Homo sapiens: one gene and its partners. The protein of the gene in region 3 purifies or fractionates together with the protein of the main gene of each other region. This does not show direct contact. Each region holds a gene or a part of one and is shown on either strand. Other genes may lie near its edges.

The links.
Region 1: the proteins of EMILIN3 (region 3) and ANKRD50 purify together in Homo sapiens (co-immunoprecipitation; 2 studies listed by BioGRID and IntAct, with this or other methods). This does not show direct contact.
Region 2: the proteins of EMILIN3 (region 3) and RMND5A purify together in Homo sapiens (co-immunoprecipitation; 2 studies listed by BioGRID and IntAct, with this or other methods). This does not show direct contact.

Annotation. Positions count from the first base shown.
Region 1 is NC_000004.12:124,711,319-124,715,066, forward strand, and holds the start of ANKRD50 (ankyrin repeat domain-containing protein 50), read right to left. Parts: upstream 1,415-3,748; 5' UTR 1,140-1,414; exon of another isoform or gene 1-1,139.
Region 2 is NC_000002.12:86,765,291-86,769,038, reverse strand, and holds part of RMND5A (E3 ubiquitin-protein transferase RMND5A), read right to left. Parts: intron 3,181-3,748; coding exon 3,015-3,180; intron 1-3,014.
Region 3 is NC_000020.11:41,365,270-41,369,017, forward strand, and holds the start of EMILIN3 (EMILIN-3 precursor), read right to left. Parts: upstream 1,550-3,748; 5' UTR 1,366-1,549; coding exon 1,199-1,365; intron 1-1,198.

The DNA of each region.
Region 1 (3,748 bases), on a different chromosome or scaffold from region 3:
GTTAAAAACTTATTAAGGACAATAAAGGTTGCAGTGTACCAGTTAACGTAATCTCAAAAATCCACGTACTTCACCTTTGGCACTTTCAAAAAGTTGGACAAAAACCACTGAAATAATCACATTCTCCCTTCTGCATTTTTCTTCCTCATTGTTATGCTTCCCAAACAGCCACATTTTAATCAAGTTACCCAAGATTTTTGCAACTTCACCATAGCAAAGGAGGGGGGGAGAAACTTTACGCACATACAGTAACACCCTTAACTCCAGGCAAAACGCTCATTCACAGTAGACTGGTAGAACAGCGCCAGCTAAGGAAGCTCTATTAACTTACACAGTCCAGTCAGTCAAGGACTGTCTACTCCTCCAGCCACACTTCTTTGTTGATAATGTGCAAAAATCTAGGGGAAGATTACCAGGGTTGCAGCTGGATGGGAAACGGTTTAAAAAAAAAAAACAAAAACGATGGGGGATGACTGTTCTTATAAGAATGATAAAGCAAACACAAGTAAAATGTGAATCCTTCCTTCCTCTGGGCCAAGGATGGAGGTCAGGGATAAAATCTACCAGTCTGGCCGGAGAAAAGGCTGCTAGAGAGAAATTCCTTCCAAGACAGGAAAGGGATAAAGAGTAGAGTGCTTCGGTGCTGGTGGGTGTCTGCCCACAGGTCCGGCCTCCAGTTTCAGCTGACAGACAAAAGGAACTCCGGGATTCCCAGCGCCGGGCACCACCTTGGGTTGGAACCGCCCAGAGGAGCCACAGGGGAGCCACCTCAGAGAGGCCACGAGCGAAGGTGCAGCCTCCACACCGAGGTCTGCCCTTCCAGAGGCTGGGAGCGCCTCTGCACCCCGCCCCGCACCGAGATTGGGGTGTGTCTTTTGAAGGGGGAGGGGGTGACTGAGGTCCTTGCCAATCCCAGACGAGGGGTCGCCTCCCGGTCGGCTTCCGCCTCTGCGCTCCCGCCCCATGCCCCGCTCCCGCTCCCACCCGGCCGACGGCGGTGCGAGGGAAGAGGGCAAATCTGGGGCTCGAGGCCGGAGAGGGTGGGTGGTTGGGTCAGGTCCAAGCCACGGCCTCGGCCTCCCAGCTTCCAACCCGAGGGAGGGGCCTCGCTTCCACCGCCGCCGCCGCCCCCCGGTTACCTCGGCCCCAGCCGCCGCCGTGGCCGCCGCTGCCGCTGTTAGGGACTCTCAGTCTCAGACACTTGCTTCGCTGAGAAGTCGCTGCCAGCAGCGCTCCCAAGACTCCACTCCAACTGCAGCCGCCTCCTCCGCCGGGCCCGGGGCACGCTCCCAGCTCCGGATCCTCCTCTTGGCCCCCGGCGGCTGCCAGTTCCAGCTTTCCCAGCAGAATCGGTCGTGCTCGCCCCAGCCCCCACCGGCCAACCGCCGCCGCCGCCGCCGTCAGGGCAGTAACTGTCTCAGGCAGCCCCCGGCCGGCCGGCTCCGCCCCGCCCGCCCAGCCCAGACCCCGCCCCCGCCCCCGCCCCCGCCCCGCCGCTCGGCCTTTCTTTGCCCGCCGGCTCCGCCTCCGCGTCCTTCCCCTCCCCCACCGCGCTCTCCCGCAGCATCCCGTGCCTGGGCGTGTGCGGCCGCCTGGGACCCGCTGCCGGCGCGGCGGGGAGACCTGTCTCGGGGCGGCGTGGGGGCCCCGCCTTTCTCAGGGGAGGCGGAGAACGGGGCGGGGGCTGCGTTCTCACGTCTCCGAGCTCACGCGAGTCGTTGCCCCCACCCTCCCCGTCACCACTGGGCCCTGATCCTTCCTTTGTCTTCCAGGCCGGAGGGACTCGCCGGCTGTTGGTGCCGTATCTGCTCCTGGGAGGGGCAGTTGGGTAGGGGGAGATTGCCTCTTGCCTCTCTCTGCTCAACCCTTTTGCCTCTCCCTTAACCCCGTTGCTTCCAAAGCCACTTCGGGCCCCGTTCTACCCCTCAGTCGTCCGGTCTCCTTTCAGTCCATTAAATTCCAGGGATGCTTTTACTTTGGCTGGGACGAAGAGAAGGAAGGAAAAGACTGGGAAGAATGTTGCGAAAATAGAAATAGTGGGGGTATACAGCGACATTCCTACCAGCCTCATGAAAAGGACGTGGCCTCCATCAGATGGAGGTTGACAGCAGGCTTGACTGGGTCTCAGGCCCCTGCTCCTCAGGGCCACTTGATCACCCGCAGCGTCCACTAGGGGGGAAGGTCTTGGTCATGTGGCGTCAGGAAATGCCCTAGAGGGCCTGCTCACAGGGGCCTGTTGGACTAAGCATGTCAGTTGTTTGCACTTACTGGACCTGAGTTGCTTAGATTCCAAATTTCTCCCGGGAAAATAAGTATACCGTCAACTGATGGAATAGGAAATGTAGCATTTTTTATTTTAATTGTTTATGCTAAAATCCAGAGTGCTCTATTTCCCATTCCTCATTAACTTGCATGTGGTTATTTGCCAAAATATTAAGCCAGTCTCCCATCTAGTTTTAGAAATTTCATAGTATAGCTATCACAATAAGAAAGATGGATAAACAAATAGATCGTGTTTGTGCTTACTCTTTCATATTGTTTATTCGTGCCAATTGAGGTTTACTGATCTTAGTATTTAATTTTAATTCATGTACCCTGAATTTTGGGCTTCTTTCCTAAAACACAAGCAAAAGAGGCAGAGTATAAATTCTCCAGAATTAGGGGGATGAAAATTGATTTTTAAAAAGCTACAATTTTTATTTATTTTTGCCTAAGCTGTTTTAATTCCCACTTAGCTTGTTTGCCACGCAGCTTTATAGTCATTGAACAGGTTGACTCCTTCAGTTTCATGGTTGTAAAATTTTATGTTTAGAGGAAAATTTAAATGAGAAATAATGTATATCACATTATCATTTCTATTAAGCCGTTTGCTAACACAATAATTAAAATAATTTCTGCCCAGTAGAGAAGTTACCGAAACTTTTTGTTTAGTGGGCCTCATTTATGATAACTAAGCAGTATCATGGAATGCTGTTTTAAATAACATCAGCTGTAACTAAGCTGTAATTAATCTTCAGACCTATTTAGAATTTTGTTTTTTGCTTTAAAATTTATTTCACATTTTATTTTTATTGCTTTTTGCTTTTTTTAATAGAAAACCCTTAACAGTGACGTATATGTATATATACACACATATATAATTTTATGAAACTTCTTTTTATCAATTACCTAAATGTTAAACGTGGCATAAGCAGAATACTTACTCTTGGTACATATTCACATACTTTAATCAGTTTCTTAGTTGTATTTTCTCCAATACCAGATACTCGCATTTTTCCAAAGAATGCAATTTTTTTCAATGTGGCCTTTCTTATTTTTAATTTGTTCATAAAATTTCCTGAAATCATCACAGTTTCACATAAATTTGAAATTACTGACAGCTTTAACGAATGCTTCTCTGAAGACTATAATGTTTTAAATGGAAAATTAAGTGGTGAGATACGTATTAAGCTCAAAACACACTCTGCTAAATAAAATATATTCTCCATTCTAATTTCTCTATATTGAAATGTACAAATTTTTCAGTTCAAATCTTTTCCTAGCTGTTGTATTTTTTTAAACCTCACTCAGTTATATTGTGCAACAAGTGTTTTTACAAAACAAAGCTCATTATATAAGTCTTGAAAATGTACGTTTATTTTGATGGTATCAATCAAGTTTAAATACTACAAAATTATGTCATCTCAATTTTAATCCATTTAGATACAAAATATAGTTTCATCCAATTAAAAGCAACAGCTCCATCAAA
Region 2 (3,748 bases), on a different chromosome or scaffold from region 3:
AGGAGGTTGAGGCTGCAGTGAGCCACGATCGTGCCACTGCACTCCAACCTGGGCAACAGAATGAGACCCTGTTTCAAAAAGTAAAATATAAAGAATTTCATAATAATCTTACATTAGTGCCAAAAAAGGTTTTATATTGCACAAAACAACTGGATTTAATGGGCTCAGCTTATCAGTCAAATGACATGCTTGCTCCTGAAACATTTTTTTTGCATAGTTCCTCTTATCCCCAGATCACCCCTGTCCAGGGTGGAAGCACTCATTTCTCAGATCTGGAAGTGTTGGCAGCCAACTCTCAGCTGTGTCCGTCTCTTCAGGACTGTCCTCAGTTGAAGAGAGTCATCTGACCAGAGTCACATCCAGCAATTGCTCCATGTGAGGGTACAAAACCCCAGCCCTATAGGCCCAATTTGGGACAACTCCACGGGCCCACAGCAGCTCCAGAGCTCCTCACGGATGGGAGACACCTTGTTGCCACTCTAATACAGTCCAACTTTCCTCTCTGCCCAATCCTGCTGTTTTCATTCTCCCACAGGTGCTGATGTCAGTAAACTTTCTGCATGTACATTCCCACTTTAGAGTCTTCCTCAGAGAACTTGATGGCATCAGCGCCTCACATTATAGCTAATTGCATCTGTCCACTCCTACGCTAGGATGGAGCACCCTGTGGAATGCACCTTATTCATCTTCATATCCAACACAGTGCCCACAGTGCCTGGCACATAGCAGGTATGCAAAACATTTGTGGAATTAAATGAATAGAAGAGCTAAAAAAGAGTTATTTTCTTACAACAGTTTCTTAAAATGTTTTGGTTTCAGGACCCCTTTATATGCTTAAGTATTAAGGATCTCAAAGAGCTTTTCTTTTTGTGGATTATATCTTTAATACATTAGAAATTAAAATGAGAAACATAAAAGGTGCCGATTAGTTCATGTAAAAATAAAATACCATGCCATTATTGCAAACATTCTTATAAAAAAATAACTACAGTTTCCAAAACAAAAATATATGTGTGAGAAGAGTGGCACTGTTCCAAACTCTCACAACTCTCCTGAATGCCTACCTTAACAGAAAGACAGCTGGATTCTTATAGTTTACTCTGCATTAAATCTATTGTGATACGTTCTTCTGGTTGAGGTAAATGAAAAAAAACCTTGTTTCACACATATGTGTAGTACTACTTTGATCACTTTGGATCATTGTGGATACTCCTCCTTAATACCACACGAAAACTGACTTTTCATAGTTTTGGCCAAAACAGGTAGTAGTTTTCTAAAGGTTCGCTGCAGAGCAGAATCTGAAACTTTACCATTAAACTTTTTGTACCCTGCTACATTAAAATCCATTTGTCTGTCTTGTACTTTGAATGACTCTTTTACTCATGCATGCTTTTGTAAAATCATACTTAATTAAGACCTTTCAAATGTGACAGGCTTGCTTCGTTCACTTAAAAAAATGGCTGGGTGATGTGGCACACAACTGTACTCCCAGCTACTCAGGAGCCTGAGGCAGGAGAATCACTTGAGCCCAGGAGTTTGAGTCCAACCTGAACAACATAGCAAGAATGTCTTAAAAATTTAAGAAAAAAGACAAAAAAAAAAAAAAAAAAAAAGACTGCCAAAAACCTGAGTGTGCGTAACTATGTTAATGATTCTTCCAAGTAAAAACTATTCCAAGGCTGGTGCGGTGGCTCACGCCTATAAACCCAGCACCTTGGGAGGCCAAGGCAGTGGATCGCCTGAGGTCAGGAATTCGAGACCAGCATGGCCAACATGATGAAACCTTGTCTCTACTAAAAATACAAAAATTAGCTGGGCGTGGTGGCAGGCGCCTGTAATCCCAGCTACTCCAGAGGCTGAGGCAGGAGAATCGCTTGAACCCAAGAGGTGGAGGCTGCAGTGAGCTGAGATTGCGCCACTACACTCCAGCCAGGGGACAGAGGGAGACTCCATCTCAAAAAAGCAAGAAAAAAACAAGTAACAAACAAAACAAGTATTCCATGAAAAAAAGTGACCAGCTAGCTCATAACTCAAAACAACATACTTTTTCTCAAGACAATTACCATACTTTGACATGAAACTGAAGTGCTTTATGTGGATTTCCTATTTTGTCATACAAATTATTAAGATGATGTGTACTGAAAGGTCAAGATTTAATAAAACTAATAATTTTAATGTTTCACCAAGAACATCCTTTTTTAAAAAAGTTTTCTGTAGAAATGGAGTCTAGCTGTGTTACCCGGGTGGGTCTTGAATTCCTGGCCTCAAGAGATTCCCCCCACCTCAGCCTCCCAAAGTGCTGGAATTACAGATGTGAGCCACCACACCAGGCCAAGAATATTCTTTTTTTCTTTTCTTTTTTTTTTTTTTTTTTTTTGAGACAGTCTCGCATTGTTGCACGGGCTGGAGTGCAATGGTGCAATCTTGGCTCACAGCAACCTCCGCCTCCTGGGTTCAAGCGATTCTTCTGCCTCGGCTTCCCGACTAGCTGGGATTAAAGGTACCCGCCACCACGTCCAGCTAATTTTTTGTGTTTTTAGTAGAGGCGGGTTTCACTATGTTGGCCAGGCTGGTCTCAAACTCCTGATCTCGTGATCCACCCTCCTAGGCCTCCTAAAATGCTGAGATTACAGACGTGGTTAAGTAAAACTAGCATTTCTTAAACTGCAAGTGTGTGGTGGTGAGGAATCCAGCTATTCGTGGAGTTTGTACCACCGCCCCAACTTGTGCTAAGGCTCTAGCAGTTTAGTCCACCACTGTTTCTGGACCATCTGTACTAATGTCAATACAGTGGAAAAGGCTCTCAGGATCCTGTGAGGTTCATACACCACACTTTCAAAACTGCTTCTCTAAAACAGCATCACTGCCAATTGTGATATCTTTTGAAATACCAATTGCACTCTTCTTTGGAAAGACAAAAGTTATTTTGGCTTTAAACATCAAGAACCAAACAAGTTAAGGGAAGGTGATAATGCAGTGCATACTTCAATAACAGACAGGGCTAATTTCCATACCTGACACTGAGAGGGGACTCCACGGAGAGCCCCAGGAGGGCACAAGCATCCCGTGTAAAGATGTCACAGATATCAGCCCACTGGTTTGCATCAAGTAGGTGAACATATGGTGAGTTCTCAATCCCTTGTCTCAGGTACACAAGGCTTCCCATCAAAACCTGAATGTCTAAAAAAAGCACCAGCAAGAAAGCATTAGTTTGCTTGCAGTAATAAGCTGCGAAAAGCAAGAATACCCCCACCCATACTGATACAGCCTAAAATAATGTATTAACAGGTCTTTTAAAATTCTGGTCCTTAAGCTTGGTTTCTTCCTTCATCCTAAATTAAACAGCATGGAGAGAAAAGGGAAGAAAAGGAAAGCAGTGAAAATACTGAACTTATAATTTAAATTCTTCTCTACAGCATAGTATAATTACCATTACCTAGAGAAGTAACAATTATGTCATCACATTATCTCTGACTGCAGAGTTAATGTTTCCTACACAGTTTCGTGGGGTTGACAGTTGCCACCTTGGCTCTCTGACACTTTGCTGTGGCAAGAGCAGCAGCATACAGCCAGGTGGGGGTGGAAAAGAGCAAGTGCACACCTTGCTCTTTCTCACATCTCCTCTAAGTTTAATATGGAATTCCAAAATCTGCAACATCTCTGACTTCTAAGAGGCTTTAATATTTTTGTTTTTGTCTAGAGCCAGTCAGAACTTTTCCTGTAAGTGATTATCAACTACAACTGTTTA
Region 3 (3,748 bases):
TTCTGTCTGTTCTCTGTGTCCCTGGGAGCCAACGCCCTTGGTCTGGGGTCCAGCCCCGCTGCTGGTCTCTGATTCCAGCCTCCGTGATGGGTGGCCCCTGGGCTAAGCACTATTTGGAACCAGGAGCCTGATGTGGCTGCCCCTCCCTGCGTGGGGAAGAGGCCAGCCCGGATTCTCCCTCAAGTGCCCTGCCACACCCCCCCATCCTTCGCTGATTCCAAACTCCTTATCTTGGCATTTAAGGCTTCCGAGTCCCCACTCAGTGACTCCTTTGAGAGCACCATGTCTTGTCCTTCCTCCCTGCCTGGCTCCCGGGGAAATCCACCTCTCCTCGTAGTTTTGCAGCCCCTGCCTTTGGTCCTGTTCCCTTACTCTCAGAGCAGTTCTTGTACCACCTCCTCCAGGAGGCTCGCTGTGATGTACCCAGGCCCACTGAGTGTCGGTACTCTTCCTCCTACAACAGCTCTCAAATTCAGCTAGAATTCAAGTTCAGCCAGCACCCCAGGCAGAGCCTCCAGCCCACTTAACTGAGGCCAGTTCGCAAGCCACTGCCCACGAAACACCAGAAGCTGAGGCGGGGAAAGCAGGCTCCTTGATGAGCCACAAGGGCTGAGGAGGTGGCTGCCTGGCATAAGCCGACCGCTGTGGACGGCTGTGCCACAGCACAGGCCCGGAGCCAGGAGCCCGCTCTGGCTCTGCAGCCCGGCCACGCTGGGGCTCCCATGGGGTTGCTGGGGCCAGGCTGACTGCGAGAGGGCAGCGGCCGCCCGGATGCGCAGCTCTATCTCCTACCTGGCCGGGCCAGGGGAGAGAAGGGAGGCCCGGGGCGGGGGAGCCCCGCGTGCTCAGCGCGCGGACCGCCTTTCCTCCTCTCCCTCCACCTGGTCCGCTCGCCCGGAGTCTGCACACAGCGCAGCTGGAAAATGTTACTTCGCTGGAAAGGTTTCCGCTGGCACTGCCAGGATCCCAAGCCGCCGCGCCAGGCCCCCTCGGTTCCTTTTTCCTCGCCAGCCCCGCAACCTCCCGGAGCGTAGGGCGCTCGCCTGGGCAGGGGCTCGGCCCCGGGCGCCGCCCCCTCTGTGCAGCGGCCTCGGGGTGCCCGGGGCCTCGACGCCCCCCGCGGGTGCGGGCAGGTGGGAGCGGCGACGCGCGCGGGCCCATCCCTCCCTCTTCCCGCCCGCCGCCCGCCCGCGCTTACTTGTGCGGCCCCGGGCGCAGCCGCGGGCGCCATCCCGTCGTGTAGAGACTGTAGCGGGAGGCACCGGGCGGCGCAGGCCGCGCCAGGAGCGGGGTGCCCCTGGCCTGCGCCCCCGAGAGCAGCGCCGCGACGGCGCACAGCCAGACGAGCAGGCGGCGGCGGCCCATAGCGGCCCCCGCGCCTCTGCCCGGCCCCGCGCGGTGCCCCCCGCCGGGTGTCCGCCTGCAGCGCCGCGCCGCCCCCGCCGCTGGTCGGCCCGGGTCCCGCCCCGAGGGTCCCGGGGTCCCCTTCGGCCCCCGAGCTCGCTGGCCCGGCCGCCTGGCGCTTCGCGGCGGCTGCGTCCCGCGGAGTGGCCGGCGCTGCTAGCGGCTGGGGCCGCGGAGGGGAGGCGGGAGGCGGGCTCTTTGCGGATTAGCATAAACTTGGGGCCGCGCCGCTCGCCGCCGCCAGCCCCTCGCCCCAGCTCCGAGCGGACGGCCGAGGAGCCGCCTGCGAACAGGAGGTTCCAAAGGGAGCAGCCCCAGGTGGCAGGGGCGCAGGCCGCCGCGCCCTGGGAGGCCCCCCGAGCACACCAGCCACTCTGTCGCCTGCGGGCACGGGGCGAGACGCAGAGAAGCGGACCCCTGAGGCCAGCCTGGGCGTGGACTTTCCAGGAGTCGTCCACCCTCAGGATACGCTTGTCTTCAGAGTCCGTGTGAACCCGGGAACTGCTCTCCAGGGCTCTGGAGCCGAGATGGCCGTGACTGGGGGCACAGCAGCACCACCTCCCCCGCCACCTCTTTGGAATAGACCCCAGATCATCCCCGTTTGCTCGCTCTGCCTCCTGGCCCCATCATTGCCCGGGAACCTTAGTTTGATAACTCCGCTGACCTCTCCCCAGGCATCCCACCTCCCCCTTACCCCGCAACCTCTGCCACGTAGCCTGGTGGCCCGGTTGCACCTCTGGTTCTCTGGAGGCGCCTGTGTTGCCTCTCTGTCTTAGGTATGGGTTGCACCGAGCCCGAAAGGCCTATCACCGCCCCAGCCCAGCCAAAAGTGCTGTGCTTTTCGTGCAACTGAAGCTCTAAGCCGGCTGGTCAGAGAAAATCCTCAGGTCTTTCTCACAAGGCACTGCCGCGGTGAAGCCAGGCGTCGTCCACATTTTGCTTGTGAAGTTGACTCTTGGAACCCAAGAGTTGGGTTTTATCGTCGTCCTCATTCAGTATCACCTTGCTAACTCTCTAACCTGCACAGAGTCCTTCTGATTCTGTCATCAGAGCGGTACTTTCCTGGCCTTGTCTCATCCACACCGGTGGCTACAGCCGTCTGTGTCTTTGCCCCAGGAGCTGATAGGTGTACAGAACTCTGGGGCTTGCTTGGAGAGACCTCCCTCCAAATTGACCTTGAGATATGAATTAATGCCTTTTGGATAGGGTGATGGTTATCAAGGATACTGGAAGGGGCAGCTCCGAAACCCACATCTATTTCCTGCCCTTAGCTTTAGTGGCTTTTGGGTTCTGTGGGGCGGACATCTGACCCCAGCTAGGCCCATCCTGCTTTCCCCCAGGCTTTGGAATCAGAACACAGAAGCTGAAGGAATCCAGCTTCCAGGTGTAGGTTGTGTGAGTTTCTCAGGGCTGTGGTAACAGCCACAGACTCAGTGGCTTAACACACAGAAATGTATTCTTGCACATTTCTGGAGGCTAACTCCAAAATCCATGGGCCAGCAGGGCAATGCCCCCTCCAGTGGCTCTGGGGAGAAGCCTTCCTTGCCTCTTCCAGCCACTGGTGGTTCCTGGCAATCTCTGGCGTTCTTTGGTCAAGGATTCTTTGTAGCAGCATCACTCCAGCCTCTACTTTCCCTCCGCATATCCCTCTTCAGGTGACCTTTTTTTCTCTGTGACTGTGATCTGTGTCCTTTCCTCTTCTTTCTGTTTTTGTTTTTTGAGCCAGAGTCTCGCTCTGTCGCCCAGGCTGGAGTGCAGTGGCGCGATCTCGGCTCACTGCAAGCTCTGCCTCCCGGGTTCACGCCATTCTCCTGCCTCAGCCTCCCGAGTGGCTGGGACTACAGGCGCCCGCCATAATGCCCAGCTAATTTTTTTGTATTTTTTTTTTTTTTTTAGTAGAGACGTGGTTTCACCGTGTTAGCCAGGATGGTCTCGATCTCCTGATCTCGTGATCCGTCCGCCTCGGCCTCCCAAAGTGCTAGGATTACAGGCGTGAGCCACCGCGCCCTGCCTTTCTGGTTGTGTTTTTAAATTTGAGACAGGGCTGGGCGCGATGGCTCATGCCTGTAATCCCAGCACTTTGGGAGGCCGAGGTGGGGGGATCACCTGAGGTCAGGAGTTTGAGACCAGCCTGGCCAATATGGTGAAACCCCATCTCTACTAAAAATAAAAAAATTAGCCGGGCGTGGTGGCGGGCGCCTGTAATCCCAGCTACCTGGGAGGCTGAGGCAAGAGAATCACTTGAACCCTGGAGGTGGAGGTTGCAATGAGCCGAGATCATGCCATTGCACTCCAGCCTGGGTGACAAGAGCGAAACTCCATCTCCATAAATAAATAAATAAAT